Linked DNA regions of Homo sapiens. The protein of the gene in region 1 purifies or fractionates together with the protein of each later gene. This does not show direct contact. Each region holds a gene or a part of one and is shown in the gene's direction. Other genes may lie near its edges.

The links.
Region 2: the proteins of MSN (region 1) and PLS3 fractionate together in Homo sapiens (co-fractionation; 2 studies listed by BioGRID). This does not show direct contact.
Region 3: the proteins of MSN (region 1) and CTNNA1 purify together in Homo sapiens (co-immunoprecipitation; 2 studies listed by BioGRID and IntAct, with this or other methods). This does not show direct contact.

What each region holds. Positions count from the first base shown.
Region 1 is NC_000023.11:65,724,899-65,735,811, forward strand, and holds part of MSN (moesin), read left to right. Parts: intron 1-2,915; coding exon 2,916-3,011; intron 3,012-4,539; coding exon 4,540-4,814; intron 4,815-6,208; coding exon 6,209-6,292; intron 6,293-6,939; coding exon 6,940-7,086; intron 7,087-8,285; coding exon 8,286-8,382; intron 8,383-10,368; coding exon 10,369-10,532; intron 10,533-10,913. UniProt on the Homo sapiens protein: Ezrin-radixin-moesin (ERM) family protein that connects the actin cytoskeleton to the plasma membrane and thereby regulates the structure and function of specific domains of the cell cortex.
Region 2 is NC_000023.11:115,631,724-115,642,636, forward strand, and holds part of PLS3 (plastin-3), read left to right. Parts: intron 1-2,276; coding exon 2,277-2,358; intron 2,359-3,157; coding exon 3,158-3,323; intron 3,324-5,112; coding exon 5,113-5,255; intron 5,256-8,386; coding exon of another isoform or gene 8,387-8,413; intron 8,414-8,684; coding exon 8,685-8,780; intron 8,781-10,913. UniProt on the Homo sapiens protein: Actin-bundling protein.
Region 3 is NC_000005.10:138,754,096-138,765,008, forward strand, and holds part of CTNNA1 (catenin alpha-1), read left to right. Parts: exon of another isoform or gene 1-3; intron 4-598; exon of another isoform or gene 599-1,068; intron 1,069-10,913. UniProt on the Homo sapiens protein: Associates with the cytoplasmic domain of a variety of cadherins. The association of catenins to cadherins produces a complex which is linked to the actin filament network, and which seems to be of primary importance for cadherins cell-adhesion properties.

The sequences.
Region 1 (10,913 bases):
GGATGGTCTCGATCTCCTGACCTCATGATCTGCCCATCTCAGCCTCCCAAAGTGCTGGGATTATAAGCGTGAGCCAACACGCCCAGCCCATTTTATGTTCTTATAATAAAATACCTGGAGCTAGTTACTTTATACAGAAAAGAGGCTTATTTGTCTCCTAATTGTAGTGGCTGTAAAGTCCAAGAGCATGGCACCAGCACCTGCTCAGCCTCTGGTGAGGGCCTTTGTGCTGTTTCATAATGTGACAAAAGGTCAAGTAATTCACAGGGACAGGGGTCCCCATGACTGAAACACCTCTCATTACATACTACCTCTTAATGATTCTACCTCCCAGCACTGCCACACCGGCAATGAAGCATCAACATGAGTTTTGGTGGGGACAAACCACATCCAAACCATAGCACTGCTCTACTACTTCTGTTCCAAGTCTGTTCTCCCCCCATGACCTAATATCCTGGCCCTCATGGTCCATCTTCTTCTCTTCAGCATCTTCAGTGGGTCTTCTCTCTCTCTCTCTTTTTTTTTCTCTCTCTCTCAGCTGGATTGTTTCTTGGATCTTGCCTTTTCCCACCAATTGCATCTGGACACACTATTCTTCTGCAACCCTGTGGAAAATGATTAGAACTGTTAATTGGGCCTTGGGCCCTGTTTAGATCTAGGATGATATACAAGGTGCTTTAAAAAAATCTTTTCTGTTCACGCCCACCCACTACCTTCATCCTCTGCAAAAAGCCAATATTACATTTCAACATAAGCATTCACATTTCTCCATCTGAAACTTTCTGGCAGTTCCAGCTGCCTATTGACTTAGAGTCAGGGAATCAACTGGCCATTGAATTCTGGAAGCCTTTTGAACTTTCCTCATTACCTCCCACCCCCACTGATCTTTTCTAAACATGTTTCTAATTATCCACATCAGCAAGAGGTAGCTGGGAAATGGGATTGTTTTTATTAACCATTTGCAAAATAACCTTGTAATGTAATTAGTACAATGATAGAACTTAAGAGAAAAAAGAGATCATTGAAGCCATACTCCCCAATTTGGATAGATAAGGAAGGCGAGGCCCAGAGAGGAAATATGCTACCTTGATATCATACAGCTAGTTGGAGACAGACATGAACATTTTGCTCAGGTTTCCTGATACTTGATCCAAGCTATGAAGGGGAAGGGTGACCTGGTGAGCAATGAAGGTCGATGACTTGGGGGACATGGCTTCTCCCCAAAGTGGTTGTCGCTTGGGTCTAGTGGGAATGCCAGGAAGCATATCTCGATGCAGAAGTGATCAAAGTTTATTACCTGGATGGGAAATTTGGGCCAAAGGAGAGACAAGGCAATTAATCACTTGAGAAGCTCAGGAGTCGTAAGCTCATATGAGTACTTGGCATTAGGACATAGCATGCTAGAGAAGAAAAGGTACAAGCTCTATAGTCAGACACATCATGGTTCTATATGGCTCTGTAATTTTAGATGCATTACCTCTCTAAGCCTTAGTTCCTCATCTATAATATGGGTATAATTGCTATCTCACAGGGTTGTTTACTGTTCAGCGCCTGACACATGATTGGTGCTTAATAAATATGAGCTACTTTTTTCTTTGGGGTCTCTGAAGCTCTAGATTGTAAACTCTGGGTGTGACTGTGGGGCCTGACTTTGGATGCATAATAGAAACTTTGTGGATACAGTGTTAGTGTGTGTATGTGTGTCTTTGTGAGTGAGTGTGTGTGTGCATGTGTGTGTGTGTATTTTGAAGGGAGATATTAATTTGTTCATAAGGGAAGGACATCAGCAAAACTGGGTCCTTGTTCCCTGCTTCCATCTCCAGGTATATTTCTATGATTCTTTCTCACCTTACCCTTACCCTCCACTTGCATCCTTCTCCCAAAAAACAAAATAAAAAAGACTGCCTAAGGCCAGCCTGACCTCATTAGGATGTGGCTCAGCTTCACTGCTGCCATCGACAGTGGTGGGTATGCTGGGGTTGAGCTGAGGGCCAGACTATTAACATGCTAATGTCAGGGACTAGAGAACAGAGCTCATCTGTGTTCTCTTGGCAAGCCTCCTTTTCCTGCCCACTGTTCAGCCAGGAGGCTCAGGACAACAGGGGGCACCTCAGCTGCTACACTGAGGTACTTACCCTATTTCTACCCTCATTTCCACCCTAAACCTGTGTAAGAGGAATCATGACTTGGCTCTGATCAGGGTTGGAAAAAATCCTCTCAGAACCCAGGCACAGCATGGCTTCAGAGTCCTTCACAATCCCCGTTTTATCTTCTCAAACATTCTTTATTTGGGGTATTGTAAATGGAACTCAGTCTTAAGGGTGTGGGTATTACCCCCAGTTGCTAAGGATGAAGGACAATATATGGGAGTGGCCCAAGAGAACAAGATACAGGAGTTAATCCAACAATCTCCACCTTCAGCCTTTAATCCATCATGGAAGTGGGAAGTGGTGTGACATTGTAGAGGGAAGGAGGAGGTGGCAGAAATCACTGGATATGCATGGATTTGGAGTCAAACAGACCTGGTTTGAACCCTAATTCTGTCACTCACAACCTGAAACTTGGGCAAGTTATTTCATTTATTTGAACCTCATTTTTGATATCTATAAAATGGGCCTAATTGTAAGTCTAGCATAGGGGTATTATGAAAATTAAAGGAGATGATGGATGTAAGGTTCTTGGTATGTGTCAGTGCTCATAAGTAATAGATCCCTTTCCTGCCTCAGCAGTACTTTGTGCAGAGAGATGCCGACATCAGTTCTTGATTGCTGCTCAAGTATATTTTCTTGCCAGATGCTGAGCACCTTAAACCCTTTAAGGGCAGATATAATATTGACTTCAAACTTTGTGTCCTCTGTGCCTCACACAGAGGAAGTATTCAATCAATGGTTGGTTGTTTTGGTTTTCTCTTCTAGGTGGTGAAAACTATTGGCTTGAGGGAAGTTTGGTTCTTTGGTCTGCAGTACCAGGACACTAAAGGTTTCTCCACCTGGCTGAAACTCAATAAGAAGGTAACTGCTTATTCCTCTGTTGGATTTAGAATTCTTTTCTTTTCCAGAACATTCCTGGGAGGGTACCATGTGCTAGTTGGCAAATCCTGGATACCTAGGGCTGTGTTTGTGACTGGGTGGTCTGTTGACCACTTGGATCAGAATAAGGACCGAGGACACAAGCAAGGCAAAGCTCTTGCTCTGTCTCTACTTTGACTTCTAACAGCGACAATGGCCAGCATTCAAAGAAGAAGAGACTCTTTTCTTTCTAATGGGAACACTAGCTTGAACTTTGACTTGTTTTGGATCAAATCCATTAGTGGCTTTTCAAGAGAGGATTGGTATCCCCTTCATCTCTCCAAACTCAATGGCTTTAGGGGATTTGTGTTTTTTTTGTTTGTTTGTTTTTGTTTTGTTTTGTTTTTGACGGAGTCTCGCACTCTCGCCCAGGCTGGAGTGCAGTGGTGCCATCTCGGCTCACTGCAAGCTCCGCCTCCTGGGTTCACGCCATTCTCCTGCTTCAGCCTCTCGAGTAGCTGGGATTACAGGTGCCTGCCACCACGCCCGGCTAATTTTTTGTATTTTTAGTAGAGACGGGGTTTCACCGTTTTAGCCAGGATGGTCTCGATCTCCTGACCTTGTGATCCGCCCGCCTCGGCCTCCCAAAGTGCTGGGATTACAGGCATGAGCTACTGAGCTTGGCTGGGGATTTGTTAAAAAGAGCCACAGATTCTTGAACTAGAAAAAAAAAAATCTGAAAGATCTTACAGTCTTATGCTGCACCTTCTCCAGCAGTCAACTAATGTCTGAACCCCATATAGATGTTTCCCTCTTTCTTGATCTTTTACCTCAGTTGGACCCCAAATGGGATGGTTTGAGTCCATGCAAGCTCTCCACCCCAAGCAGCATCTTCACGGGAACCTGGCAGCCTTCCATCTTCGTATCCTCAAACTGGCTGGCCTTGTCCTTAGAAGTCTCCATACTGTCCTGCAGTTTGCTTCTCTGATTGTGTCTAGGGAGTAGGTACCCCACCTTCTGCTGGTAGAGTCTTGTTTTCCTAAAGAGTTGAGTCTTTTGCTGGACAAGTGTGGAGCCACTAGTATTCCATTTCAGGCTTTAAAAAATGGTCTAATTTGTGCTCTTGTTTAGCCAGTTCTCAGTCCTCAGACATATATCCTAGTCCTTACTTTGCTAATTTATGAAGTTGGAGGAGACTTATAAGACGAGCTTAAAAGAAGAGCTTATGCCTACTATCAGAATTTGGGGATAGTTGGATATAGTCAGATAAAAGTGGTTTGAAGATTTCTGATCATCAGTCGGTATTAAGGTAATTTCAGGAAGAAATTCCCAACAGAAAGTGATTACAGACATGGGATTCAGTCCCCAGTGAAAGTAATGTATTATTTTTCTTAATTACCAGGGGAGTTGCCACCCAGCTGTCTAAGATTATGCAAATTGATGATCTTTCAGTGTTTTCTCCCCACCCTACAGCCACTCCATTACCCTTAAAACCTATTTTTTGAGAGTCCATAACCCTTACTCTTCCCAGGTGACTGCCCAGGATGTGCGGAAGGAAAGCCCCCTGCTCTTTAAGTTCCGTGCCAAGTTCTACCCTGAGGATGTGTCCGAGGAATTGATTCAGGACATCACTCAGCGCCTGTTCTTTCTGCAAGTGAAAGAGGGCATTCTCAATGATGATATTTACTGCCCGCCTGAGACCGCTGTGCTGCTGGCCTCGTATGCTGTCCAGTCTAAGTATGGCGACTTCAATAAGGAAGTGCATAAGTCTGGCTACCTGGCCGGAGACAAGTTGCTCCCGCAGAGGTGAGGTGGTTCCCTGCCCTCCTTTGCCTTGGCCATAAGGGGCTGCAGCCCACAGCTGACCAATCCCTGCCTCACAGGGATGCCAGATCTGTTCTTCTCCATTGGGGTCTGTCTGAAGACTGTGTTATGCTGCTCAAGAGACATTTGCATATAGTGTCAGACTCTGTTGTTGTTTTTCTGGCTTTCCAAATAAAAAGCCTTTTTGTTTTCCCTCTGTCTACCTGGTTACAGAACTTTATTACCCTGGAGGCAGGTGCTTATATAGAACCAGAGATTGAGTAATTTCTTTCACCCATCCCTGGTTCCATTTTCTCAGTTCTTTTTACTGATTTAGATCTCTTATATCAGAAGTTCACAGGGGAGAGAGAGAAATAAGCAAACCGAGGACATGGGGAGCTCAAATAGTCTTTTAATATTGACAGCTAGTGTACAGAGCTTTCCCCTTTTGTAAACTTCAAAGTCAAAAGCTCTAAAACACTCATTATTTTTGTTTTTGTATCACAATAACACACAAAATGAACAAAGCAGGCAATATCCTTATTTCCTGGCGAAGGAAATAGAGGTGCAGAGGTACTCACACTGACTTTCCCCATCTGGTGCAGCTCATCTGAGGCAGAGCCAGAGCCAGACCTGGAAGCTTAGCACCTTAATATTTTAACACTAAGTTTTTTCCTACTATACCCAATGGCCATTTCCATAGTCTTTTGGATTAGAAGGAAAAGCTTTGCTTCATTCTGGGAGCCTCAGTCCCATTGGAGTTATGGCATATATGTACAACACACCCATAAGATATTAGGGATAGTGCTTGTACCCTGGGGACTCTACCTGAGTCATTGCCATGATATCTGAGATGGCATGTTTAAAGCAAACCTTGTTTATAATCTAGTAGGTCTTGGAGGTTGGGCCTGTTGGTTTTTCTGAAAGCCATTAGGACTCAGTTCATTGCTCTGTAGCCAAAGGCCATCCTTTCATTTCTGAGCAGTATTCTTATAAACATAGAGTGTTGGTCCTAAGAGGATCTAGGAGAGAGTGTACCTGACTCCATGAGGTCCATCCCTACTGTTAGCCCCTAAAGTCAGCACAAACTCCTGACACATTACTGCTATGCTTAGGGACCACAGCACATCATTTGATTTGTGGATGAAGGTACAAAGGAAGGTGTTCCCCTTGTTGTTTTTGATCATCCATTCTTGTAGCTCTCTTACCTTTCAGGCAATTCCTTGTGTCTAGTTTAACACCTTCTTGCTATAATTTCGGTCTGCTTCCAGTGTGACCTCAATTGGCTGACTCTACATCCTCTTTGCATCAGCCCCTTAGAAAGCTAAATGGGCTTCCCTTCTCTCCTGCACAGGGACTTTGTGCTTTAAACTACTCATCACCCATTGTCTTTCCAGAGTCCTGGAACAGCACAAACTCAACAAGGACCAGTGGGAGGAGCGGATCCAGGTGTGGCATGAGGAACACCGTGGCATGCTCAGGTAAGCTTGCCCAAGCAGTGGTGGGCCCCACTTCCCTTACAGGGTGAATGAGAATGCGTTCTAGGGAGAAGAGACTGATGACAAGGGACATTGGTGGATGTTGGAGAAAGAGGGAACAGGGACGATAGAAGGCAAACTAGGACCATTATAAGGCTGTTTTTTGTTTGCTTGTTTGTTTGTTTTGCTGAATGCTGGTAACTGGTAGCCCAAACAGTTTTGACTATCAAGAAATGGAGGGAGCTCTTACACATGGCAAAGCATTTTTGAGGGTTGTGTAGTTGAAGGACAAATATCATCATTTTGCCATCACCACATTCTGAGCCCTGCTAAGAATGTGCCTTTATAAGAGGCTGTCACAATGAATGAGAGAAAGAAAATTGCTTCTATGGCAGCCAACATGCCAGAGGCCAGCAAGGGTCAGCCCATCTTTATTCCCCTTGGGAGCTTAGACCCTAGGTTTTTGTTAGGAGATTTTGCTTTGCAAAAGTCATGCTGTGCTCTGTTCTCCATCATCTGCTTGCCTTTTGTCCCCTTTCCCACTCCTGATAGCAAGATCCTTGTCAGAAGTACAGAGTAAGCAGGCTTTCTATCTCCTTGGGTCTGACTCACAAGCCCCACTTTGTGACCCCCAACTCTGTGTCATTTAGGGAGGATGCTGTCCTGGAATATCTGAAGATTGCTCAAGATCTGGAGATGTATGGTGTGAACTACTTCAGCATCAAGAACAAGAAAGGCTCAGAGCTGTGGCTGGGGGTGGATGCCCTGGGTCTCAACATCTATGAGCAGAATGACAGGTATATCTCAGATCTCTTTTAGTTTATTTAGGTCACGTTAACATCTAGGGCTCACTTTTCACCAAGGAGCAGGGCCATATCTCTTGGGTCCCATCTCAGTTCTTTTTCTACCTAATTTAGTCCAGCCCAGATGATTTCACAACTTCCCTTAGTCAATACTAAATCCTGTATTGACTAGACTCACACTGTCAACTATGGTAGCCACCAGCCACATGGGGCTATTGAACACTTGAAATGTGGCTACTTTGAATTGAGATGTGCTGCTGTAAGTGTAAACTACACACTGGACTTTGAAGACTTAGTGTGAAAAACAGAACGTAAAATGTCTTAATATTTTAAAAAATATTTATTTACATGTTTAAATGATAATATTTTAGATATATTGGGTTAACTAAACTTACTATAATTTTATTACATCCATTTCTTTTTACTTATTTTCATGTGGCTACTAGAAAACTTAAAATTATATATGTGACAGTCATTATGTTTTTATTGGATCGTGCAGGCCTAGACTATCTTATCAGCATTTGTAATTAGTCTCCTGTGATGGTTAAGTGGCTTTTGGCCTATAATCCTCTCACTGTAGCCTTATCCCACTTGCTTATATTTTTCACTTGGTGTGCTCTTGGTGAGGATGGAGAGCAATAAATTATTGTTCCATATAACTCCTGAATCTTGGAGTTCATTATTTACTTTCTCTCAAACTTTTGTAAGCTTGGATAGAAGAGACTCAGTTAAATAGGGCTGGGGATTCCCTTGAGGAACTGTTACAAGTTCCATGCCTCAAACAAATACATAACAAAACAAACTTGAGACAAGGAATCATATGTTAGTTGTACTATCAGGAGATCTTTAGTGAACTCTCAATGCTGGCAGCTGACCTGGTGGCGTGTGATGACACTGGCTGAGCTGTCACTGAGTCTACCTCCTCCAGAGAGAAGTGTTTGTTTGGCCAGGCTCAGTGGCTCACGCCTGTAATCCCAGCACTTTGGGAGGCTGAGGAGGGAAGATTGCTCAAGCCCAAGAGTTCAAGACCAACCTGGGTAACATAGTGAGACCTCGTCTCTATTTATTTTAAAAAAAAAAAAAGAGAGAGAGAGACATAGAAGCTTGGAGGTGACAGTGAGGGCAAGCCCCCAGTTCTCTACACCCTTCTTGTCTTGCCCTTGTCCTGATGTTATTGGTTTCTATTTCTACAGACTAACTCCCAAGATAGGCTTCCCCTGGAGTGAAATCAGGAACATCTCTTTCAATGATAAGAAATTTGTCATCAAGCCCATTGACAAAAAAGCCCCGGTGAGTGATTCCTCCCTCTGACCAAGACAGGTACTTGCCAAGGCCTGCATAATGAGCAATCATGCTATTCTATTTTTCTCTTCCTTTTCTGATGTGTTTGTGTGTACGTGTGTGCGCGCATGTGCACGAACAGGAAGCACAAATAGAGATTGGGAATGGAGGGGGATGTTGATGCCAAGAAATGGCCAGCAGACATCCTGTACCTGGTTCTACTCTGCTACCTGTCTCTCTCACTGTGGATGTGGGAGAGCCACAGGCAGTGTTAAGAACTGCTTCTTAGCCATTGCCTCTGCTGCCCTGAGGTTCTGGGGTGGAAACCGAATGCATCTCATATTTCCAAGCCCCTGGGTCCCAGAAAGTGGACACTGTTCACATATTTGATTCCTTCCTTCCTTCCTCTCTCTCTCTCTCTCTTTCTTTTTTTTGATGGAGTCTCGCTCTGTTGCCCAGGCTGGAGTGCAGTGGTGCAATCTTGGCTCACTACAACCTCAGCCTCCCGAGTAGCTGGGATTACAGGCGCATGCCACCATGCCTGGCTAATTTTTGTAGTTTTAGTAGAGACAGGGCTTCAACATGTTGGCCGGGCTGGTCTTGAACTCCTGACCTCAGGTGATTTGCCTGCCTTGGCCTCCCAAAGTGCTGGGATTATAGGCGTGAGCCACCATGCCCAGCCCTTGACTTCTTTTTTTTTTATTGTGGAGAAAGGGCTGTGGCCAAAGTCCAAATCTGAAGATGATCCTACAGACTTCTTGGTAGAACTTTACTGCTGCCCTCTCAGACTTTTCTCCAGAGCAATCCAAGACCAAAAAAGTGCTTTAAGTTCATTCATTTCTCTAACACACTCGCCATGCTTCTTACCCACTCAGTAGCCTGCAGCTGACAAGACCAGACAGCTGGTGATTGTGGGTAGGTTAGGAAACTGAGCTGAGTGTCCCCTTTTCTGGGATACTGCATGTCCAACAAGGCCCAGTGACAATGCTGAGCCTGACCCTTTTCATGAAGGCTCAGTGATTCTTCTCCAGCCATGAGGTGCCTGAACTTCCCCTGCTAGGGACTTTACACATGTTGTCTCCTTAAACCCTCAGCAACATGGTCAGGTAGGTACTAAGTAGCATACTAATTTTATGGCTGACAAAACTGAGGTTAGAGAGATGGAGTGATTTGCCCAAGATCACACAGCTAAAAATGGTAGAGCTGGGATTTATACCTGCACCCCAAGCTATATGAGACAGTAGCAGTGTGTGGTCAGTGGCAGAGGAGATGGTGGTGCCCATCAGCTGGTGACTTCGGTCCAGTGGTATTTGTAGTAACAAACTCAAACTCACTGGATTTTCTTGTGTGTTTTCTTTTATTGCTGCTGTGCTCAACTATTATCAGAAAAAGTTAAGTAACAAAGCCAGCTGAGATCAAGGGCTCATTTTAAAAACAACAACCAGGACAAGCAGTGATCAGGAGATTTATGTATTCATGTATGTATTTACAGCCTGCCTTGTTCCAAAAAGGATTTAAGGGGCTGGGTCTAGGATTTGCTTTTAGGAGATTGTAGAAACAGTCCAGCCACCCATACTGCACCCACCAGGGTATTATTCAGGGGTCATTTGGCTTCCAAAAGAGGTCACCTGAGACCTAGCATGTTCCCTAATTAGCAGAGAAAGTTTGAATCCTTCAACTTGATTAAGAGTAATTTAGGATGCTTTCACAAGCAAAGATTGAAAGAAATTGTGGTTTCATAAGCAAAGATTGAAAGAAATTATGGGAAGAACATGGGTTTCAGAGTCAAGAAACCTGGGTTTCTAGTCTTGGGTCTGTCTACTGTCTAACCCTGGGCAAGTCACTTTACCACTCTGATAATTAGTCTTCCCATCTGTAGTGCAGGAGGTCAGATTAAATATTCTTTCCAGTGCTTTTGGATTTAGCTTTTCAGAAGGCAGAAGATCACCTTCACCTGTCCCTCCAAATTCTTTCTGATTGCTGATTTCCCACCAGGACTTCGTCTTCTATGCTCCCCGGCTGCGGATTAACAAGCGGATCTTGGCCTTGTGCATGGGGAACCATGAACTATACATGCGCCGTCGCAAGCCTGATACCATTGAGGTGCAGCAGATGAAGGCACAGGCCCGGGAGGAGAAGCACCAGAAGCAGATGGAGCGGTAGGTGCTGCACACTGATGTGGGGGGCCAGGGCTGGGGCAAGGAAGCTTCTCAAAGGTGCCCTGCATGCTAAGTCAGGACATGAGGCCAACCTAGGACTTCATAGATGAGAGGTTAGACACCAATATTCACATTTATTCAGAAAAAATCTACCAAGTTTGAGGGGCAGTTTTTACAGAGCTGGATCTAGCAGGAAACTGCCCTGTAGGACCTCACAGTCTACTCAGTCTAGTAGCAGAGAGAGGGAAAACAATATATACATAACTCAAGGTACAAAGGCCATGTCATTCATTCACTTAATAAATATTTATTGAGCAATGAATAAGAAAAGACCAAAAATCTCTGCTTTTGTGAAGCTAGCATTCTAGTGGGGAGGAGACG
Region 2 (10,913 bases), about 50 Mb from region 1:
TCTAAGAAATAAGAATATATATATATACATTTCCTTTGTGTTCTGTTTACAAGCAGTGAAGAAATAATTTCCCATGTGTGTGTTTTGTTTTTGTTTTTGAGATGGAGCCTTGCTCTGTCGCCCAGGCTGGAGTGTAGTGGCGTGACCTCTGCTCACTGCATCCTCCACCTCCCAGTTTCAAGCAATTCTTATGCCTCAGCCTCCCGAGTAGCTGGGACTACAGGTGCTCACCACCGCACCCAGCTAATTTTTGTATTTTTAGTAGAGACAGGGTTTCACCATGTTGGCTAGGCTGGTCTCGAACTCCTGACCTCAAGTGATCCTCCTGCCTCAGCCTACCAAAGCGCTGGGATTACAGGCATGAGCCACCGTGCCCGGCCTCCCTTGCATTTTAATATAGAGAGAAGACTGCAAGTTTCCCTCTCTGGGGACTCACCCTGCAGAACTCAAAAAATCTATAAATTGTAAAAATAATAAGAGATAATCATATTGAACTAACTAAGATTTGAATTTTGCATGGAAAGAAGCATGGCTTTCTTTCTGTAGAAAAAAATTTATTAGGGCAGTATTATGAACATCTAATATGTTAGAGCCAGGCATAGTGGCTCGCACCTGTAATCCCAGGTACTTGGAGGCTGAGGTTGGAGGATCCCTTGAGCCCAGGAGTTCGAGGCTGCAGTGATTCGAGCTACGATTTGGGCCTCTGTACTGCAGCCCAGGCGAGAGTTAGACCCTGTCTCTAAAAAATAACAAAATAAAAAATAAAATGTTAAAGTCTAAATCTAGATTTTACCAAATGAGATTTTTCCTAATGAGTCACAGACTATAGCCTACCTAATCTTTCTCTCGCCACTATACTGCCAGCACCAAATATAGTGTCTGGCTCATTGTTGAGGCACTCGGTAAACATTTGGTGAATGAAAGAATCTCATGCTCAACTAATTTTACTGTTTTGTGGAAAAGACTCATTTCCAATGCAGGATTTTATCTGTCTTTAAAATATATTCAATAAAGTTCCACCCCCCACTTTTTTTTTTTTCTTTGAGACAGGGTCTTGCTGTGCAGTGATTCAATCATGGCTCACTACCGCCATGACCTCTTGGGCTCAATCAGTCCTCCCACTTCAGTCTCCAAAGTAGCTAGGACTACAAGCATGCGCCACTATGCCTAGCTAATTTTTTTTTTAACTTTTTGCAGAGATGGGGTTTCACCATCTTGCTTAGGCTAGACTTGAACTCTTGAGCTCAAGCAATCTGCCTGCCTTGGCCTCCCAAATTGCTAGGGTTACAGGCGTGAGCCACACTGTACCTGGCCCAAGTTTTGTTTTCAATATCCAAGTTATTTTCTTTCATAAAAGAATGAGAAAAAATTAAAAAAAATTGAAAGAGAAAGCATGCTACAATCCTCTGCTCAGAGATACCCAACTACTATGCACATATTTTGGTCTTTTTGGGTTTTTTTTTTTTTAACGGCATCTTGCTGTGTTGTCCAGGATGAAGTGCAGTGGCATGATCTCCGCTCACTTCAACCTCCGCCTCCCAGGTTCAGGCAATTCTCCTGCCGCAGTCTCCCGACTAGCTGGGACTACAGGTGTGTGCCACCACGCTGTGCTAATTTTTGTATTTTTAGTAGAGACGGGGTTTTCCCATGTTGGCCAGGCTGTTTTCCAACTCCTGACCTCAGATGATCCACCTGCCTTGGCCTCCCAAAGTGTGGGATTACAGGCGTGAGCCACCATGCCTGGCCAGGGTTTTATTTATTTATTTATTTATTTATTTTTCTTTTGAGACGGGGTCTTGCTCTGTTGCCCAGGCTGGAGTGGAATGGTGTGATCGTAGCTCACTCTAACTTTGAACTCCTGGGCTCAAGCTGTCCTCTTTCCTCAGCCTCCTGGGTAACCTGTACTACAGGCACATGCCACCATGCCCGGCTAATTTTTTTATCGTTTTTGTAGAGACAGGGTCTCACTATATTGCCCAGGCTGGTCTGGAACTCCTGGCCTCAAGCAGTCCTCCTGCCTCAGCCTCCCAAAGTGCTGGGATTATAGACATCAGCCACCACATCAGGCCTTGGCCTTTTTTATTTTTAGTTTTTATTTTCCATATGTGTAGTTTATTATGATCAACATGATAAAAGTCATCTAGCTGCATTTTTTAGAGTACATGAAAGAGATGTTATAGTAAGCTTTAAAATATTTGTAAATATTTACAGCCACTTTATAAAAGGAAATCAGCTCTTTTTTTTTACATCAGCCTTTTTTTAAATTTTTGTTTCAGTAAAATGATTAACCTTTCAGTTCCTGATACCATTGATGAAAGAGCAATCAACAAGAAGAAACTTACACCCTTCATCATTCAGGTATGCATTGTTCTCCCCTCCCTTTAACATGAAATTACTGTTTGAGGACCTGTTCTGCAGACTTCAGCCTCTGCACTCTGTAGGCTCCCAATCAATCCTTGTAAAAACTGTTGAGTGTGGGATTGTTATCCAGATTATACAGACAGAACTGGGACTCAGAAAGGTTTCTGAGCTTGCCTGAGATTAATGTTGGAACTGAGGTTCAAATCCCATTCTAATTTCAAAGCCCCATGTTCTTTTCATTTCATAATGTGTTCAAGCACTACAGAGATAAGCAGAAGTATATAAGCTCTTAATTAACTGGCGTGCTTAAGAAATGGAGCATTTTTTTTTCTATCAAGTGAATATTAGATTATTAGCAAAATTCCCTCAGAGAAGAGCACCTCTTGGGATGTGGACATTGATAACTTCTAAAACTCTTTTGGGCATATGCAGTACTGTTGGTCTCTCACCCATTTAGGCATTTTTGGAATTATAACACTTTACTCACATGGATATATTTACTGTGGTACTCAGCCTTTTCATTTAGTGCCAGCATACTTCAAAAGGTACCAAATAAAAATACAAAGTTAACTTCTCATGAGATTCTGCAAAAGGCAATAGCAATAAGGCTGAAATTTGTCTTAGCTAGGCTTTCTAACACAAAACTCTGGAATTTGTTTTTTGTGACACATATATGGATGAAATTAATACAGGGTATTAATTTCCTCATTGAATGTTATTTTCAGTGAAGGGAGAAAGTAGACTGCTAAAAAATGGAAAGGTCAAGAAGCAAGTGTGTAATTTGGCTGTCTTGCAGGAAAACTTGAACTTGGCACTGAACTCTGCTTCTGCCATTGGGTGTCATGTTGTGAACATTGGTGCAGAAGATTTGAGGGCTGGGAAACCTCATCTGGTTTTGGGACTGCTTTGGCAGATCATTAAGATCGGTTTGTTCGCTGACATTGAATTAAGCAGGAATGAAGGTAATGGAACACAGTCATTCTGGCAGTTGTTTATTGGTTATTTTTTTCTAGTCATGCAGACTTTCGTGCTCTCACTTAATGGAGGTGATTAAATGGTGGTAACTAGAATGAACATAAGGTAATGCTATAGAGTTATTCAGGAAAATAGCCTAATTACATGACTCTCTTCTTTACTAGTAATTCACATTTGTCTGGCACTTTACAATTCATTTTGCAATAATGACACAAAAGCACAGAGAGATTAAGGAGCTTTCCTGAAGTCCTCAAACTTGATTATCTATTTTTTTCTGTTCTGCCTACACAACTTCTACCCCGTTGCCACCCTCAGCTCCACCATTTTGCACCATCTTCTTTTTTGGAGACAGGGTCTCACTCTGTCACCCAGGCTGGAGCGCAGTGGCACAATCAGCCTGGCTAACATGGTGAAACCCCGTTTCTACTAAAAATACAAAAAATTAGCCAGGCGAGGTGGCACGTGCCTGTAGTCCCAGCTTCTCCGGAGGCTGAGGCAGGAGAATTGCTTGAACCCGGAAGGCGGAGGTTGCAGTGAGCTGAGATTGTGCCATTGCACTCCAGCCTGGGCGAAAGAGTGAGACTCTGTCTCAAAAAAAAAAAAAAAAAAAGAAAGAAAGAAAAAAAAAGAGAGAAAATGTAAGATTGCAACCGGGTGTGTTGGACCATGCCTGTAATCCCAGCACTTTGGGAGGCCGAGACAGGTGGATCACTTGAGGCCAGGAGTTGGAGACCACCCTGGCTAACATGGCGGAACCCCGTCTCTACAAACAATAGAAAAGTTACCTGGGCGTGGTGGCATGTGCCTGTAGTCCCAGCTAGTCAGGAGGCTGAGGCAGGAGAATCGCTTGAACCTGGGAGGCAGAGGTTGCAGCGAGCCGAGATCATGGAGGCAGAGGTTGCAGTGAGCCGAGATCACGCCACTGCACTCCAGCCTGGTCAATAGTGCGAGACTCTCTCAAAAGAAAGAAAAGAAAAAGAAAATATAAGGATGAATTATATTTCTGTTAAAATAGGATTGAGCCTTCAAGAGTTAATTGATTAATTTTACTTAAATACAAATACCACCGTGTTTCTAGACTACTTTAATCAAAAGGTTAAGTAAAAGATTCCCAAATTGTAAACATCTTTCCCCCAAATCCCTGACTTTTTTTTTTTTTTTTTTTGAGACGGAGTCTCGCTCTGTTGCCCAGGCTGGAGTGCAGTGGTGCGATCTTAGCTCACTGCAAGCTCCACCTCCCGGGTTCACGCCATTCTCCTGCCTCAGCCTCCCAAGTAGCTGGGACTACAGGCGCCCGCCACCACGCCCGGCTAATTTTTTGAATTTTTAGTAGAGATGGGGTTTCAGCGTGTTAGCCAGGATGGTCTTGATCTCCTGACCTCGTGATCCGCCCGCCTCGGCCTCCCAAAGTGCTGGGATTACAGGCGTGAGCCACTGCACCCAGACCCAAATCCTTGACTTTAGAAGTGTTAAATAAGAACAACTTATACAAACATATGACATAATGTGAAGCTTGCATTAAGCTTAAAGGCCATAACCTCATTTGGTATTTGAAATGTGAAGAATAACAGAGAAAAGAATAAATTGTAGTATTATGTTATTATATCTGTTATATATTTATCTTTTTTAGTAGATTATGAGTATCTTGAAACTAGGAACTATGTCATAGTAGTTTTTGCACCTCTATTACTTAACAGTGTCAAAAGACTGAATGAACTTGGCATGACCATTATTGTGTCATATAATAACTGTGGGATTTTTTTTTTTTTCTTCTAGCCTTGGCTGCTTTACTCCGAGATGGTGAGACTTTGGAGGAACTTATGAAATTGTCTCCAGAAGAGCTTCTGCTTAGATGGGCAAACTTTCATTTGGAAAACTCGGGCTGGCAAAAAATTAACAACTTTAGTGCTGACATCAAGGTAACTGTTGAAAGAATCACAACATTTTGGGGGGATATAATAGCTGGAAGATTTCATCCCAGCTTAACAGAGAGAAAATCCTAACACTGTATCACCAAGCCTTGTTGTCTCTTGGCCCTGAAGGTAGATTTTAGAAGAGTAATAGAGCCAGATAAGGTACATTAGCACCTATGTTTTATTTTGTGGGAAAAGGTAAAAATATTATGCTAATTTATCATATTATAATGCTAATTTGTTATATCCTGCCTATTGGTAAACATGGAGTATTAAAGAATAGGACATGACTATTCTATTCTTAACTGCCTTTCCCAAGCCTCAGTGTACCTGTTAGTAAACACACCTAGAAGAGATAGGAAGGGCCTCATGATTTCCTCTTCACCTTTTTTATTTGGCTTCTCTCCTGTCATTTTATCCTACCTTTAGTTGTGAGTTCCTCGAGGATAGCAATGAGCTCTTATTTATGTCTGTGTATCCTACCTCAGCCCCTGCTCCAGGGCCCTCCTACTAAAGCCAACTTAAAACATAGTATGTGGCATATACAAGTCCCTCATATTTCTTGCATTGAATTGAATTTTTTTTTCACTCACTGTTTATCATGAGCAGTGGGGGAAAACTAACAATGGAGGAAGACATTTATTACATGTTGCCTTTGGCTTCTCATGCAGAGGGCCAACATTACCATAGCAAACATTGTGTGGAGTTCTCCTTAACTGCCTCAATTCTGTGTGACATCCAGATGTTGGTACACAGGGAATAAACTTAAGGATCTTCATCAGATGTCACTGACCAGCAAGGCTGTGAAAACAATACTATGTGATGATATGATTTTGTTCAGTGATGAGAGGAAGCAGTGAGTTGCCTGTACTACTGATTTCATCCATGAAAATTAAGAGTAGCCCCAAAATTATAAGACCAACTGACCCTGCCCTCTCTTTTAATTACACAATATGTTTGGCCAGGTTTGTTGTTGTTGCTGTTGTTGTTGTGACAGGGTCTCACTTCGTCACCCAGGCTGGAGTGCAGTGCTGCTAACATGGCTCACTGCAGCCTTTACCTCCCAAGCTCAAGCAATCTTCCCACTTCAGCCTCCCAAGTAGCTGGGACTACAGGTGCACACCACCAAGCCCGATTGATTTTTTTTTCTTTTTCTGAGATGGAGTCTCCCTCTGTCACTCAGGCTGGAGTGCAGTGGCACTATCTCGGCTCACTGCAACCTCCGCCTCCCAGGTTCAAGAGATTCTTCTGCCTCAGCCTCCTGAGTAGCTGGAATTACAGGCATCCACCACCACGCCTGGTTAATTTTTGTATTTTTAGGAGAGACAGGGTTTCACCATCTTGGTCAGACTGGTCTCAAACTCCTGACCTCATGATCTGCCCACCTCGGCTTCCCAAAGTGCTGGGATTACAGGCATGAGCCACTGTGCCCGGCCTGATTTTTTTATTATTTGTAGAGATGGGGTCTCACTGTGTTGCCCAGGCTGGACTCAAGCTCCTGGGCTCAAGTGATCCTCCCACCTCGGCCTCCTAAAATGCTGGGATTACAGGCATGAGCCATGGTACCTGGCCAGCCAGGTATATTTTGCTTCATGCACTAGATGCGTTCCTGAAAATCAGCAAGCCAACCATAAATGGATTTTATGTAGTGGGATATATTTTAAATGTAAAGAGAAAATCTTATTTTTGTAAATGAAGCCTGCTTTGAATTTTTTTATTTTTTATTTTTTAAATTATTTTTTGTTTATTTTTTTTTTTGAGATGGAGTCTTGCTCTGTCGCCCAGGCTGGAGTGCAGTGGCGCCATCTCGGCTCACTGCAAGCTCCACCTCCCAGGTTCACGCCATTCTCCTGCCTCAGCCTCCTGAGTAGCTAGGACTACAGGCACCCGCCACCATGCCTGGCTAATTTTTTTTGTATTTTTAGTAGACATGGGGTTTCACCGTGTTAGCCAGGATGGTCTCGATCTCCTGACCTCGTGATCTGCCTACCTCGGCCTCCCAAAGTGCTGGGATTACAGGCATGAGTCACCGCCCCCGGCCATCAATATTTTTAAAAAGGAAATAATTGTTTGGTAATGTGAAAACTAACTTCCAGTTTATCTGTATTCAAGTTCAAATTTTCACCTGTAAAGCCCTTTTCAGGGTAGTAAATACAGATTTTGCTGGGTCTGCTCTTTACTTGTTCTTCTCAAGAGCATAGGTTTATTATAAATTGTTTGTGTAGCTTTAGCAAGTAATTGGAAGTGAAAGCACTTTCGCAATTGTAGTACACTATTCCTTAAGAGGTAAATGCTATGCCCCCAAATGATAGAATCGGAGTTGGCATTTTATGAATTGCTCTGAAATAGCTTTCAATTACCTGATTTTCCCCATTCTTAGAATCATTTATGGCACCAAGTTTCAAACTCACCTGGGTAACTGGTTTAAAAGGCACCTTTCTGGGCAGCTCCCAGACATTTATATTTGGTAGCTCAGGAATTGGATTCAGTAATTCACATATTGAGTAACTTCCTCAGGGGTTAGTATGCACATAGACTATGAGAAACACTCCTTCATAGCCTGTCTGGACCTTCAAAGCCCAGTAACAGGAAACTATTAATATCGTAGCTGGAAGGTGGTCTTCACATATGGCAGGATTAAGGAATCTTGACTCAAATTCCGGTCCTCTAGCATTCCAAAGATGCAGGAATTTACTTGACACGTGTGTAAAGGTTCTTAATAAGCGTTTGTGCAAGTACAATAGTTTTCAAGCTGTGTTTTGTGGAGTTGTCCACACAACCTGAATTCATGTTGACTGTGAGCCAACCCCATTGTTTTATGTATTGGGATTCTAAGAAAACAACATTCAAGTGATTTAGTCCAGGGGTTTAAAACGAAAAGAGACCTTTGTTTTGTTAAGTACATTCAGATCATAGAGGGTTCAGTGTTATTTTAGCAACTAAAATGTTTACCATTTAATGCTTTTGTCATTTAAATTTACAATTAAATACATCTTTAACATAGCTAATCTCTTCTTCGTAGGTTGTGGTATATGCATTGTGCTTTGTAATGATATAACCTGTTTATTTTCTCTTTCTTCTATGCTTCCTGGATTTCTGCTCTCCTACTTTTTTAAATGCTTGTTTTGTCTGTCAAGCTTATTGACTTCAGTAATTCAGTGAAGGTACAGAACTGGTTATATGTTTATTAGCATTATTGTATTGATGACTTTAATAATTGCGAAGTCATGTCAAAATCCAGTTCATCCATATGCAAGACAGATATAAGGCAGATAGATGGACTTTTCTGGGGAAAACACCTGTTAAATTAAAAGGCAGAGATTTGTGCCATTTATTCTCAAAAAATCCAATGCAAATAGCCTTCCAAACATGGGACAATAGGATACATTCATTCCTTGTAACTGTGATCTCACTGACATTTTCAATTCTTTGTAGGATTCCAAAGCCTATTTCCATCTTCTCAATCAAATCGCACCAAAAGGACAAAAGGAAGGTGAACCACGGATAGATATTAACATGTCAGGTTTCAATGTAAGTATAAGTGCTCTTTTGAATTCTACAATCTTGCAAAATTATTGTCAATTTCTTATAAGTACAATAATTTTTATAATCGTATGAAGTAGAGTTGGCAATTTTAAGCATTATTTTAAAATGTATTACTGTACATGTAATTCAGAGGCCAGAAAACTAGCTTTGATTTATTTTGATTGTTAGTGAATTCCATCGTTGTTGTGGTATTGATTTATATGGATGGCATAAAATATTCAAAACAAGTATGGGGAAATAAGTAACTAGAAGCTAACCTTTTCCAAGTATTTGGATTACAACCACAGTAATAGATTTAGTGACTATATGAAAACCTTTTCCAAGTATTTGGATTATAACCACAGTAATAGATTTAGTGACTATATATTCATATTCCTGTGTTGAGAGTAATGTGATTATGTTTTACAAACTCCCAATCTATGAAATCTAATTTAGGGAATTACTCTCAGAGACCATGTTCCCTGGTTATGTCACTAATTTGTTTAGTGACATTGGACAAGTTCCTTCTCAAAATTGGATTTCACTTTGTTCATCCATAAAGTAAGGAGTTAGAGTGAACTATTTAGTCCCAAGTTTCTAGGAATCTGTGGTTTTTGTACCCATTAGATATGGAATGCATGCTACTAATTAACAAAATCCACATATCTAGCCTATTATGCCATAGGATGGAGTGGATTACATTGGCTAAACCATTTTTCTTCTCTTTCTTTTTTTTTTTTTTTTTTTTGAGACAGAGTCTCACTCTGTTGCTGAGGCTGGAGTGCAGTGGCACCGTGTCGGCTCACTGCAACCTCCATCTCCTGGGTTCAAGCAATTCTCCTGCCTCAGCCTCCCGAGTAGCTGCGATTACAGGCGCCCACCACCATGCCCAGCTAGTTTTATATTTTTAGTAGAGATGGGGTTTCACCATGTTGGCCAGGCTGGTCTTGAACTCCTGACCTCAGGTGATCCACTCGCCTCGGCCTCCCAAAGTGCTGGGATTACAGGTGTGAGCCACCGTGCCTTACGTGGCTAAACCATTTTTATGCTGCCCTTATCAGAACTGAATTTGTAACTGACTTGTGTGCTTATATTTCTGTCTGTATGTTAAATGCAAAACTCTTCAGCTCAGGTCACTCTTGGTAGGGATGAGGGGCCATCTTGTCCAAGAAGGGAGCTGTCTGGGTTGGCTAGCCATGTGATCTGATACCAGGGTAAATGGCATCAGTATGCTAACCGATTCTGATACACCCCTTCTCTAGTCAATCCTTTCCAATTGATCTTAAAACACTCTTTTGTCTCTTCCCTCTTCAGAATCCGACAAGGATTCTTCTGTTGACTCTAGAATTCAGTCTGAAATGTTCTGCTTGGCACTCACCCTACAAATCTTGCTCTAAAATCTAGCCAGTGTTATTTCCCCAAAAGTCTGTGTTCCCCACCCCAACCTTCCTTCCCACCACCACCCAGGTGCCTTTGCTCATGCTGTTCTCATGGTTTTCAGTGTCCTTCATCTTTTTCAGCTTTACACCTTCTTTAGGGTCTTTTTTTTTTTTTTTTTTTTTTAAGAGACGAGGTTTCGCCATGTTGGCCAGGCTGGTTTCGAACTCCTGGGCTCAAGCAATCCTTCTGCCTCGGCCTCCCAAAGTGCTGGGATTACAGGCGTGAGCCACCACGTCCAACCAAGGCCTAATTTTAACTCTGAACAGTTTTACCTGTTTTTTATTTCAATTTAACTTTTTTCTCTTCGTCTTTGTAATGGAAAAAATCCCTTCCTTTCGTCCTAACTTTTTTAATCCTTCAATTCCCTGAGATTAATCCTTGGTCTTGCCTTCCACCATTCTCCCTACGCTCAAAAGAAATCAGTGGAAATAGATTCTCTGCTTCTCTTCAATTCAAGCAACAGTTCACAAGCATTTCCCTTGGGATTTGAGCATGACATGAATGAAGGTGTCTGTCTTCTCCCTCAGCCAGGGAAGCCTACTTCCACAGCTCAGCACAACTTCCTCTCTCTCTAGCTCGCTCTCCAGCAGTGCCCTCCTTTCTAGTTCCTTCTGCTGCATAACACAGCCCCAGAGGTTCCAGGGTTCCAAGGAGTCCACTCTGTCATGAAGCTCATTGACTTAATGCACAGTACCCAGA
Region 3 (10,913 bases), on another chromosome or scaffold:
TAGGTGGGCCACACCCGTGTGGACTTTTGGCGTGACCGTCCACTTGGACTCGGGGATTACTCAGCTTTCCTGGGTTTCTTGTCGGTTGGACGCACTTAGCTTTCAGCCCTAGTTTTCAGGAGTGGCATTAGAGAGGTTTTTTTTTTTTTTTAATTGTTGTTGACTTTTAAAGGAGCGTGTGTGTGCGTGCGAGTGTGAAGCACTTGTTGGAAAAAATGTTGCCTGAATGAATGCCTGACCTTTGCTTGGCAGCAGTGGCTTCCCAGTAATGCAGGCGGCGGTTGGCCCAGTTCCAAGGTTGACTCCCTCTTACGTCCTCTTGCATCTTGGTGACATTTTTTTGGTGCGTGTGTTTTGTACAGAATTTACAATTATTTGGAAAAGAGCGAGATATGTCAAGTCTACGACTAAATTCGGGGCATTTTATATTTATGATGAAGGAAATGCTTACATCATTGTTGGGACAGGATAGGCATTTTGTGGAGCGAATATTTGTGTTTAGTCAGCAGTGATTTTTAAATACTGGACAGGTGGGTGTTACTTTAAGGAACGGAATTTATAAATCGAATTAATTAGGATGTGTTATTTTGTTTTACAGGAAGAATGAAGAATGAGTGTAGGAGTTACCTATAGTTTCTGCCTAATTATTTACCAATCTGGACTTTTGAACAAACATTTTTTTTAAAGACGGGGTCTCCGTCGCCCGGGCTGGAGCGCAGTGACACGATCATGACTCACTGCGGCTTCTGTCTCCTGGGCTCAAGTGATCCCCCCACCTCGGCTTCCGAAGTAGTTGGGACTACAGGCACGCGCCACCACATCCGTCTAATTTTTGTATTTTTGGTAGAGATGGTGTCTCGCTGTCTTGCCCAAGCTGGTCTCGAACTCCTGGGCTCAAGTGGTCCTCCTGCCTCAGCCTCCCAAAGTGTTGTGATTACAGGCCTGAGCCAGGGTGCCTGACCCCATCTGGATATTTATTCAGCGAAAGAATAATTTTTTAATCCACCTAAGAGCTCACAGTGTAATAGGGGAGACACACACCCCAGGTGTAGTACAGAGCGGACTGCAGTAAGTGCCTTAACAGTACTAATGAAACTATTGTCTGAGTCAAATCTTACCTAATAGTAACAACAAAAGAAACTTGTAGAGGCACGGAGAGGGGGCTAATAAGTTTTACTTGGGTAAGTCCAGAAAGGCTTTCAGGAGGTGGTGGCATTTGATCTGGATGAAACATGAGTCGAGTTTTTTTTAAGTGAAGGGAGAAAGTCATGAGAAGCATAAAAGGGCATAGGAGTTTGGGGAATTGTGATATCACTCTCCTGGTTTTCTTTTCCTTTTGACTCATCTCAGTTTCTTTCTTTTCCTCGCCCTCACTCTTTCCTCTCGTACCCAGGGTTCTTTCCAAAGTATCTTTGTCCTCCACACCACTGATGTGGCATCACCTTCACTCCCATCAGTGATATCTCATTTCATATAGTGACTTAGAGATGAGAGGTACCCTCCTCCAAGATGAGAATCACTGCTCTGTGCAGTCTCTTCTGTCATCAGCCTTATGTGCTAAAAGTCCAAGCCTTTGAGTGCAGGTGTGTCTCCTGACCCACATGGTCACCTGTGCATTGGGAAGCTTTTTGGGTGTCCCAGGCTTCTCAAACTCAAGGTGTCCAAAGTGGGACTCCTGTCTCTTCTGGAGACATGAACCAGATGTGGAGATCCAGGGTAACTGCCCTGCCCGGGTTTTGGGATTTCCTTCTTTTTTTTTTTTTTTTTTTTTTTTTTTTTTTTTTTGATGGAGTCTCCCTGTGTTGCCCAGGCTGGGGTTCAGTGAGGTGATCTCAGTTCACTGCAAACTCCACCTCCTGGGGATTCAAGCGATTCTCCTGTCTCAGCCTCCGGAGTAGCTGGGATTACTAAGTGCAAGCTACCACGCCCGGCTTATTTATTTATTTATTTATTTATTTATTTTGAGATAGTCTTGCTGTGTCTCCCAGGCTGGAGTGCAGTGGCATAATTGCGGCTCACTGCAACCCGTGCCTCCTGGGTTCAAGCAACTCTCCTGCCTCAACCTCAAGGAGCTGGGATTACAGGTGTGTGCCAACATGCCTGCCTAATTTTTTTGTATTTTTGATAGAGAGGGTTTCACCATGTTGGCCAGGCTGGTCTCAAACTCCTGACCTCGTGATCCACCTCGGCCTCCCAAAGTGCTGGGATTGCAGGCTTCAGCCACCGTGCCCAGCCTGATTTTTTAATTTTTAGCAGAGATGGGGTTTCATCATATTGGTGAGTCTGGTCTTTAACTCCTGACCTCAGGTGATCCACTCGCCTCAGCCTCCTAAAGTGCTGGGATTACAGGTGTGAGCCACCGCACTTTCGGATTTCTTTGAGAACGTAACTCACTGTGGGGCATAACAGACAGCCCTGATTGTTGGGGGTAGTGTTGTGTGCTGGTGAGAATATGGAGAGAAGGAACAGGGCCCTCTGCATTTGTAGAGGTCCTGAGACAGGAAAGACTCCGTGTGTTTAGAGACTTGAGAGAAGACTTGTATAGCTTGGGTACTTTTTCAGTGGGGAGAAGACCTCACATGAGATTGCCAGAGAAGGCAGAGGCCATGTTGGGGTTTTATTCTAGAGGTGTAAGAAGCCATTGTAGGGAGTTTCATGATTTGATTTCCTTTTTAAGACTCCTGCTAGTGCTTGGAGAAGGCTTGTGTTTGTGTGCATGTGGAAGCAGAGAGTTGAGCTAGGAAGATGGTGGAGTACGAGGTGGTAGGGATGAAGGGAGCTGTATTTTGGAGAAATGAGACAGGACTTAAATATGGATTGGGGCTGGACAGGGAGGCTCATGCCTATAATCCTGTTTTTTTGGGAGGCTGAGTTGGGAGGATCACTTGAAGCTAGGAGTTCAAGACCAGCCTGAGCAACTTTATGAGACCCCGCCTCTAAAAAAAAAAAAATCAACCAGGCATGGTGACACGCTCTGTAGTCCCAGCTACTCAGGAGGCTGAGGTGGTAGGATTCATTGCTTGAGCTTGGGAGGTGGAGGTTGCAGTGAGCTCTGATCATGTCACACTGCAGCCTGGGTGACAGAGTGAGACCCTGTCTCAAACAAAAGAAAAAAAGGGAGGAAGGGAGGGAGGAAGGAAGGAGAAAGAAAGAAAACAGAATGGTGGTTGTTAGGGGCCAGGTGAAGGGGAATAGGGAGCTATTGTTATGGGTACAGAGTTCGGTTTGGGAAGATGAAAAAAGTTCTGGAAATGGATCGTGAATATATGTAATGCCGCTGAGGCATACAGTATTTAAAAACAGTTCAAGGCTGCTGTGAACTATGATCATGCCCCTGCACTCCAGCCTGGGCAACACAGTGAGACCCTGACTCAGAAAAAAAGAAAATGGACTGGATGTTGGGGGCCTAGGGTAAAGTTGCTTCCTCAGTGATTCCCTTCTACTCTCCCAACATAACCTTTCATGATGAGCTTTTAGTCATATCTTAAGACTCAGCACTTTCGTTTCTGGTAGCAAATTTTTTAGCACTGGGTGGTGCATTACATTATGCTGTACGTTATTATTGATGTACCTGTTTGCCTTTACTGCTAGGAAGGGAGCCTTGTAAGCTCCTTGAAGGCAGGAACTGAGAGTCTTAGTTCTTGTCTTGGTGCTTAGTACCTGGCATGGAGGGCAAATTAGATGCTTGTTGAGTGAAGGAGGAAAAAGTCTTTTCTGCCTGGAGTCTAGCTTGTGGATGGAATGATAACAGATGAGGCAACAGTCAGATTATGGAGGGCCTCCAATAACAAATTTGGGCAAACTGAGAACCATCTACAGCCCATTCTTCTTCCTTGCCACCCAGATCTAATCACTGATGAAATCCTCTCCATGCAGTCCTCAGCTTATGTGTAATATATTCTTTTTTTCTCCTATTTCTTTTTTTTTTGAGATGGAGTTTTGCTCTTGTTGCCCAGGCTGGAGTGCAATGGCGTGATGTCGGCTCACTGCAACCTCTGTCTCCTGGGTTCAAGTGATTCTTCTGCCTCAGCCTCCCAAGTAGCTGGGATTACAGGCATGTGCCACCACACCTGGCTAATCTGGTATTTTAATTTTATTTATTTTATTTATTTTTATTTTTTTTTGAGATGGAGTCTTGCTCTGTCACCCAGGCTGGAGTGCAGTGGTGCGATCTTGGCTCCCTGCAACCTCCGCCTCCCGGGTTCATGCCGTTCTCCTGCCTCAGCCTCCCTAGTAGCTGGGACTGCAGGCGCCTGCCACCACACCCGGCTAACTTTTTTTGTTTGTTTGTTGTTGTTGTTGAGACGGAGTCTCGCTCTGTCACCAGGCTGGAGTGCAGTGGCACGATCTTGGCTCACTGCAACCTCTGCCTCCCGTGTTCAAGTGATTCTCCTGCCTCAGCCTCGCAAATAGCTGGACTACAGGCACATGCCACCACGCCCAGCTAATTTTTGTATTTTTAGTAGAGATGGCATTTCACCATGTTGGCCAGGATAGTCTTGATCTCTTGACCTCGTGATCTGCCCACCTCGGCCTCCCAAGGTGCTGGGATTACAGGTGTGAGCCACCACACCCGGCTGATATTTTTATTTTTAAAATACATTATTTTCTTGATTTTTCCCATACCTTCCTTTAGTTTTTTGAACATCTGTAAGACAGTTGTTTTAATGTCTTTGTCTAGTAGGTCTTCCATCTGGTCTTTCTCTGGGACAGTTTTTGTTTTTTTTTTGAGATGGAGTTTTGCTCTCGTTGCCCGGACTGGAGTGCAATGGCGTGATCTTGGCTCACTGCACTGCCTCCTGGCTTTAAGCGATTCTCCTGCCTCAGCCTCTTGAGTAGCTGGGATTACAGGCATGCGCCACCACACCTGGCTAATTTTGTATTTTAAGTAGAGACAGGGATTCTCCATGTTGGTCAGGCTGGTCTTGAACTCCTGACCTCAGGTGATCAGCCAGCCTTGGCTTCCCAAAGTACTGGGATTACAGGCATGAGCCACCGTGCCCAGCAACTGGGACAGTTTTTATTGGTTAATTTTTTTTTTCTTTTAATGGGTCATACTTTCCTGTATCTTTGTATGACCTGGGACTTTTTAATTTTTTTTTGAAAACTGGACATTTGAATCTAATGATGTGCTAACTCTGAAAATTGGACTCTTCTCATTCCCAGGGTTTGCTGGATTTTTTTGTTTATTTGTTACAGTTTGTTTTTATGCTGAGGATCAGCCTGAGATACAAACTTAAGGACTTCTCAGGTCTTTTTTGAGCCTGCACCTTTCCCTGGGCGCATGCACCATGGTAACTTTTTTCCTTATCTCCCCCGCACCCTCATGATTGCTTTTGAATATCCTAGTCTTTAAAGTCTAGCTCCTAAAGAGGAAAAAGAGAAAAATGAAGGAAGTAGGGAGGTGGGGGCCCTTGGCCCATTAAATTTCCTGGAAGTCTACTTCAGCTGGAGGGGGAGGACTTGCAGTCATGGAGGGGGTGCAATAATGGCTATCCTTCTCAGTGTCTGCCTATCCCTGATTATAAGCAGCAATCAGCAATTAGAATACGGATCCCTAATATTTGGAGGACAGGGTCCTTATTACCCATCCTGGTTCCCAAAAGCTGCTTGCAAGCTGTTTCAGGAATGCATTGTAGGTTGTCTGCCCGTGGCTGGGGGCTAGGGAATGGGGTAGCTGCTGCTCAGCTAAGGGCTGAAATTGACTGAAATTAACCCAATTTACTGTCCCAGTCTTTCCTTGGAAGTTGCAAGCTTTCTTCAACAGTCCCCAGAATTACATCTGACTAATTATGCCAGTGTAATTGTCTAGGTGGGGAGACTGATCTTGGTGCTTCCTACTCTGCTGTTTTAGAATCTGGAATCCTCTCCCAGAATTTCTTTCCTTTTTTTTTTTTTTTTTTTTTTTTTTTTTATGAGATGGAGTTTCACTCTTGTCGCCCAGGCTGGAGTGCAATGGCGCGATCTTGGCTCACCACAACCTCCGCCTCCCGGGTTCAAGCGATTCTCCTGCCTCAGCCTCCTGAGTAGCTGGGATACAGGCATGCGCCACCATGCCTGGCTAATTTTGTTATTTTTAGTAGAGACGGGGTTTCTCCATGTTGGTCAGGCTGGTCTTGAACTCCTGACCTCAGGTGATCCACCCGCCTCGGCCTACCAAAGTGCTGGGATTGCAGGAGTGAGCCACCGTGCTCAGCCGGATTTCTTTCCTTTTAAAGGCTGAATAATGTTCCATTTATTGTATGTATATGCCATATTTTGTTTATCCATTCATACTTTTTTTTTTGGAGGGGACAGAGTCTCTGTTGTCCAGGCTGGAGTGCAGTGGTGCGATCTTGGCTCACCACAACCTCTGCCTCCCAAGCTCAAAACGATTCTCCTGCCTCAGCCTCCTGAGTAGCTGGGATTACAGGTGTGCGCCACTACCACCCGGCTAATTTCTTTATTTTTAGTAGAAACGGGGTTTCACCATATTGGCCAGGCTGGTCTCTAACTCCTGACCTCAAATGATTCACCTGCCTCAGCCTCGAAAACTGCTGGGATTACAGGCGTGAGCCACCACGTCTGACCTATCCATTCATATGTTGATGGACGTTTGGATTATTTCCAAGGTATGCTACTTTTTTATAGCTCTTAAAATTTTTCCAAATTCCTCTCCAGAAATGTACTTTATCATCACCTGTGGTACATCAGGGTATTTTCCACTTTAGACATTCTTGATCTATTGTCTGAGTACTTGAAGTGGTGTGACTGTAGGCTGACTGTTGAATGAAGCTGAAAGGGGGGTTTTAATAGCAGGTCACAAACTTGGATAGAAGAGGAGATGTCTCTCGGGCTGGTTGGATATATAATAAGTTCTGGAAGGCCACATGCTGGTGATGATGTCATCCAGAAAGGGTTTGGTACTGAATTTCTGTTCAGGAACGTTCCTTGTCAGGGATGTTAGGGATCTGCCTTGTCAACTGTAGTCCTTCGTCAGCCTCTTCAGAAGTTGATGCCCACTTAGCTCTTGAAGCAGGTGTTCTAAGTAAATAATATTTTGTACTCTTATATTCTGTGGATTAGTTGTAGGTACATGCTGTTGTGAAAATAAATTCATTTGACTTCTCTGTATCTTGATTGTGGAGGTGATCACACAACTGTTATTTATTTTTTTTGAGACAGAGTCTCACCCTGTCGCCCAGTCTGGAGTGCAGTGGCATGATCTCGGCTCACTGCAACCTCCACTTCCTGAGTTCAAATGATTCTCCTGCCTCAGCTTCCTGAGTAGCTGGGATTTGCAAGCATGTGTCACCACGACCTGTTTAATTTTTGTACTTTTAGTAGAGACGGGGTTTCACCATTTTGGCCAGGCTGGTTTTGAACTCCTGACCTCAAATGATCCGTCCGCCTCCTAAAGTGCTGGGATTGCGGGCTTTAGCCACTCACCTGGCCCACACAGCTGTTTTTAGATTGGTATACGAGAGAGTGAATTTTATTGTGCATAAAAGGTGGAAAAATGAACAGGTAAAAAAATTTACTCAAAAAAATTTTGGGGGTGAGTTTGGCCTTCTATATGGAGATAATAAATAAGTAGTGAAAAACATGAACCCAATTATTCTTTCTACCTTCTCTGCCCAAATCATTTTTTTCTCAAGTGACCAAAACCACACACTTTGAGGTCTTTTTGTTGTTGTTGATACAGGGTCTCACTCAGTCATCCAGGCTGGAGTGCAGTGGTGCAATCACACCTCACTGCAGCCTTGACCTCCCGGGTTGAAAGTGATCCCCTCACCGCAGCCTCCTATGGAGCTGGGACTACAGGCGCCTGCCACAATGCCTGGCTAATTTTTGTGTTTTCTGTAGAGACAGAGTTTCACCGTGTTTCCCAGGCTGGTCTCAAACTCCTGAGCTCAAGTGATCCACCTGCCTTGGCCTCCCAAAGAGCTGAGATTACAGGCGTGACCCACTGCGCCTGGCCCACTTTGAAGTCCTAAAGAAATTTAGGTTATTATTCTATGCATGTTGGAGGATTTAAGTCTTATTAGCAGCTTCTGTTTTCTGTAAGGAAAAAGTTAAAACACATCTGGAAGAGTCTCATAGAGCAGCACTTTCTGAAACTTGCCTGGGTACCAGTATGCCTGCTTCCAGACCTTGAAGATATTACATGTACTGCTTGGTGATCTGCCCTGTCCCCCACATGTTGTGGGCCTGGATTGAATGGACTGAACAGTGTGGGGAATTAGTCCAGCGTGACTTGCCTTGTCTCATGCTGTTTGCTCACTTGTGAGAGCACTATACTGAATTATCCATTATTGAAAGTTCCAAGTGTGCAAAGAACCACACTTCAAAAATAAAATGTCAACATTGCCCTTTCTCTGTTAGAGCCTTAAATGTTCATTATTTTCTTTAGTTTTTTTTTATAACTATCAAACTTATTTTTCTCCATGTGGAAGTATGCCACAACTCCATTTCTAATGGAGCTTGAAATTAGCATGTATTTCCACTTACTTGTTGATGGGCTGTCATCGATCAACCCCTCTTTTTGATTGGGATTTAATTTGTGGTTTTTTTTTTTTACCAGCTGTAAGTTTGGAGTAATGCATGTAATGTAAATACAGTTCACAGGGCAACTTCGGATGTTCTAAATACTTGTAACATTTGCTCATTTTGAACAATATTGTATGAGTAGTGTGAAGTGATTTTTAAAATGTCTGTCATTTTTTTCATGTTCCCATTTTATTAAAAGGAGGGATGGAACTATATTGTGGAAGCTAATGTAATTTTTGTCTCTAAGAGGTTTTTTTTTCTTTTTAGACTAAAAGGGCTTAACAGAAGAAAAATTTATCTTTCTTAATTGCTAATTTAAAGGCTAATTTTTTCCCTAGATTGCTTAGTTTTGACTATTTGATTCCATCATATCAAGCTGTGAATTTCCTTCATTTTCTTGTTTTGAGGTTTCATTATTAAATATTGTCAAAAATAAGTGGCTCATCAACTCTCTTGAAAGTGTCTTATTGCTATGTTTTTTTTTGTCAGTATTTGACATTCTGAATTGAAGATGTGAGTTGGAAACCTGGTTAATTACCAAGTTACATAATCCTGTATTTATTAACTAGGTTAGACTACATACAGACTGTTCTTGAAAATGAAAGTGCTGTTATAACTCAGAAAACACATTCACTATGGCCCATTTCAAGTTAATTGAAGGATTGAGCCTTTGATAGTGCATTTGCCCTGTGCGGCTCTGTTACATGCATTCTTTCTAGGCAAAGATGCATTGTTACCATTCTCTCATGGTATGTTGAATATTTCATTAGATTCAATATTTCAATATTAATCCAAGCTTTTTTTTTGAGACAGGGTCAAGCCATCCTCCCACCTCAGCCTTCTGAATAGCTGGGACCATAGGTGTGTACTACGACACCCAGCTAATTTTTTACATTTTTAGTAGAGACAGGTCTCACCATATTGCTTAGGCTGATCTTTGAACTCCTGAACTCAAGCGATCTGCCCACCTTGGCCTCCAAAGTGCTAGGATTACAGGCATGTGCCACTGTGCCTGGCCTGAGTTTACAATCCAAATTCTAAATCATGGTTTGTGAAATATGATGGTGCAGTGAATAAGCTAGAGGCTAAAAGGGAGAAGCATGTTACTATTACTGATGAAACAGTGTTTGTGGGTTTTATATTCCTGGGGATCTCTAAATTGGCAAAAGGTTTCATGAGGGATTCATTTGTTGTCATTCTCTTGCGTCTGTGGACCTGGGTTATCATATTTTTAGAAAAGCTTTGGACTGACTTTTAAGTGTGTCTTTAGAAACCTGCCATTTAGGCTGGGTGCGGTGGCTCACGCCTTTAATCCCAGCACTTTGGGAGGCGGGCAGATCACCTGAGGTCAGGAGTTCAAGACTAGCCTGACTAACATGGAGAAACACCGTCTCTACTAAAAATACAAAAAATTGCAGGGCGCGGTGTCTCACACTTGTAATCCCAGCTACTCCTGAGTCTGAGGCAGGAGAATTGCTTGAACCCGGGAGGTGGAGGTTGCAGTGAGCTGAGATTGTGCCATTGCACTCCAGCGTGGGTGACAGAGCGAGAATCTGTCTCAAAAAAACAAAAAACAAAAAACAAAAAAATAATTAGCCGGGCATGGTGGCACATGCCTGTAATCCCAGTTACTCGGGAGGCTGAGGCAGAAGAATCCCTTGAACCTGGAAGGCGGAGGTTGCAGTGAGCTGAGATCGTGCCATTGCACTCCAGCCTGGGCAACAAGAGTGAAACTCTGTCTCAACAAAAAAAAGAAACCTTCCATTTTGCAGAGAGGTAACTAAGTGAAATGTGAGTTTGATCCCTTGGGAGGGAAAAAAAAGTGGAAATGGAAGATGGCAACTTTTTTCTTTTTTTTTAATTTGAGACGGAGTTTTGCTTTTGTTGCCCAGGCTGGAGTGCAGTGGCATGATCTCAGTTGACCGCAACCTCTGCCTCCTGGGTTGAAGCGATTCTCCTGCCTTAGCCTCCCGAGTAGCTGGGATTACAGGCATGCACCACCACGCCTGGCTGATTTTGTATTTTTATTAGAGACGGGGTTTCTCCATGTTGGTCAGGCTGGTCTCGAACTCCTGACCTCAGGTGATCCGCCCACCTCAGCCTCCCAAAGTGCTGGGATTATAGGTGTGTGCCACTGTACCTGGCCAGATGACATTTATTTCGGGTCTTTAAGACCAGTGAAAGATGTGATGTTTTCTAGTTGCTTTGAGTTAGTCTAAAGCAGTAATTTGCTGTATCTCTCTCTTTTTTTTTTTTTTTTTTTTTTGAGATCTCGCCCTGTCGCCCATGCTGGAGTGGGAGTGCAGTGATGCGATCTCTCTTCACTGCAGCCTCTGGCTCCAGGATTCTAGCGATTCTTCTGCCTCAGCCTTCCGAGTATCTGG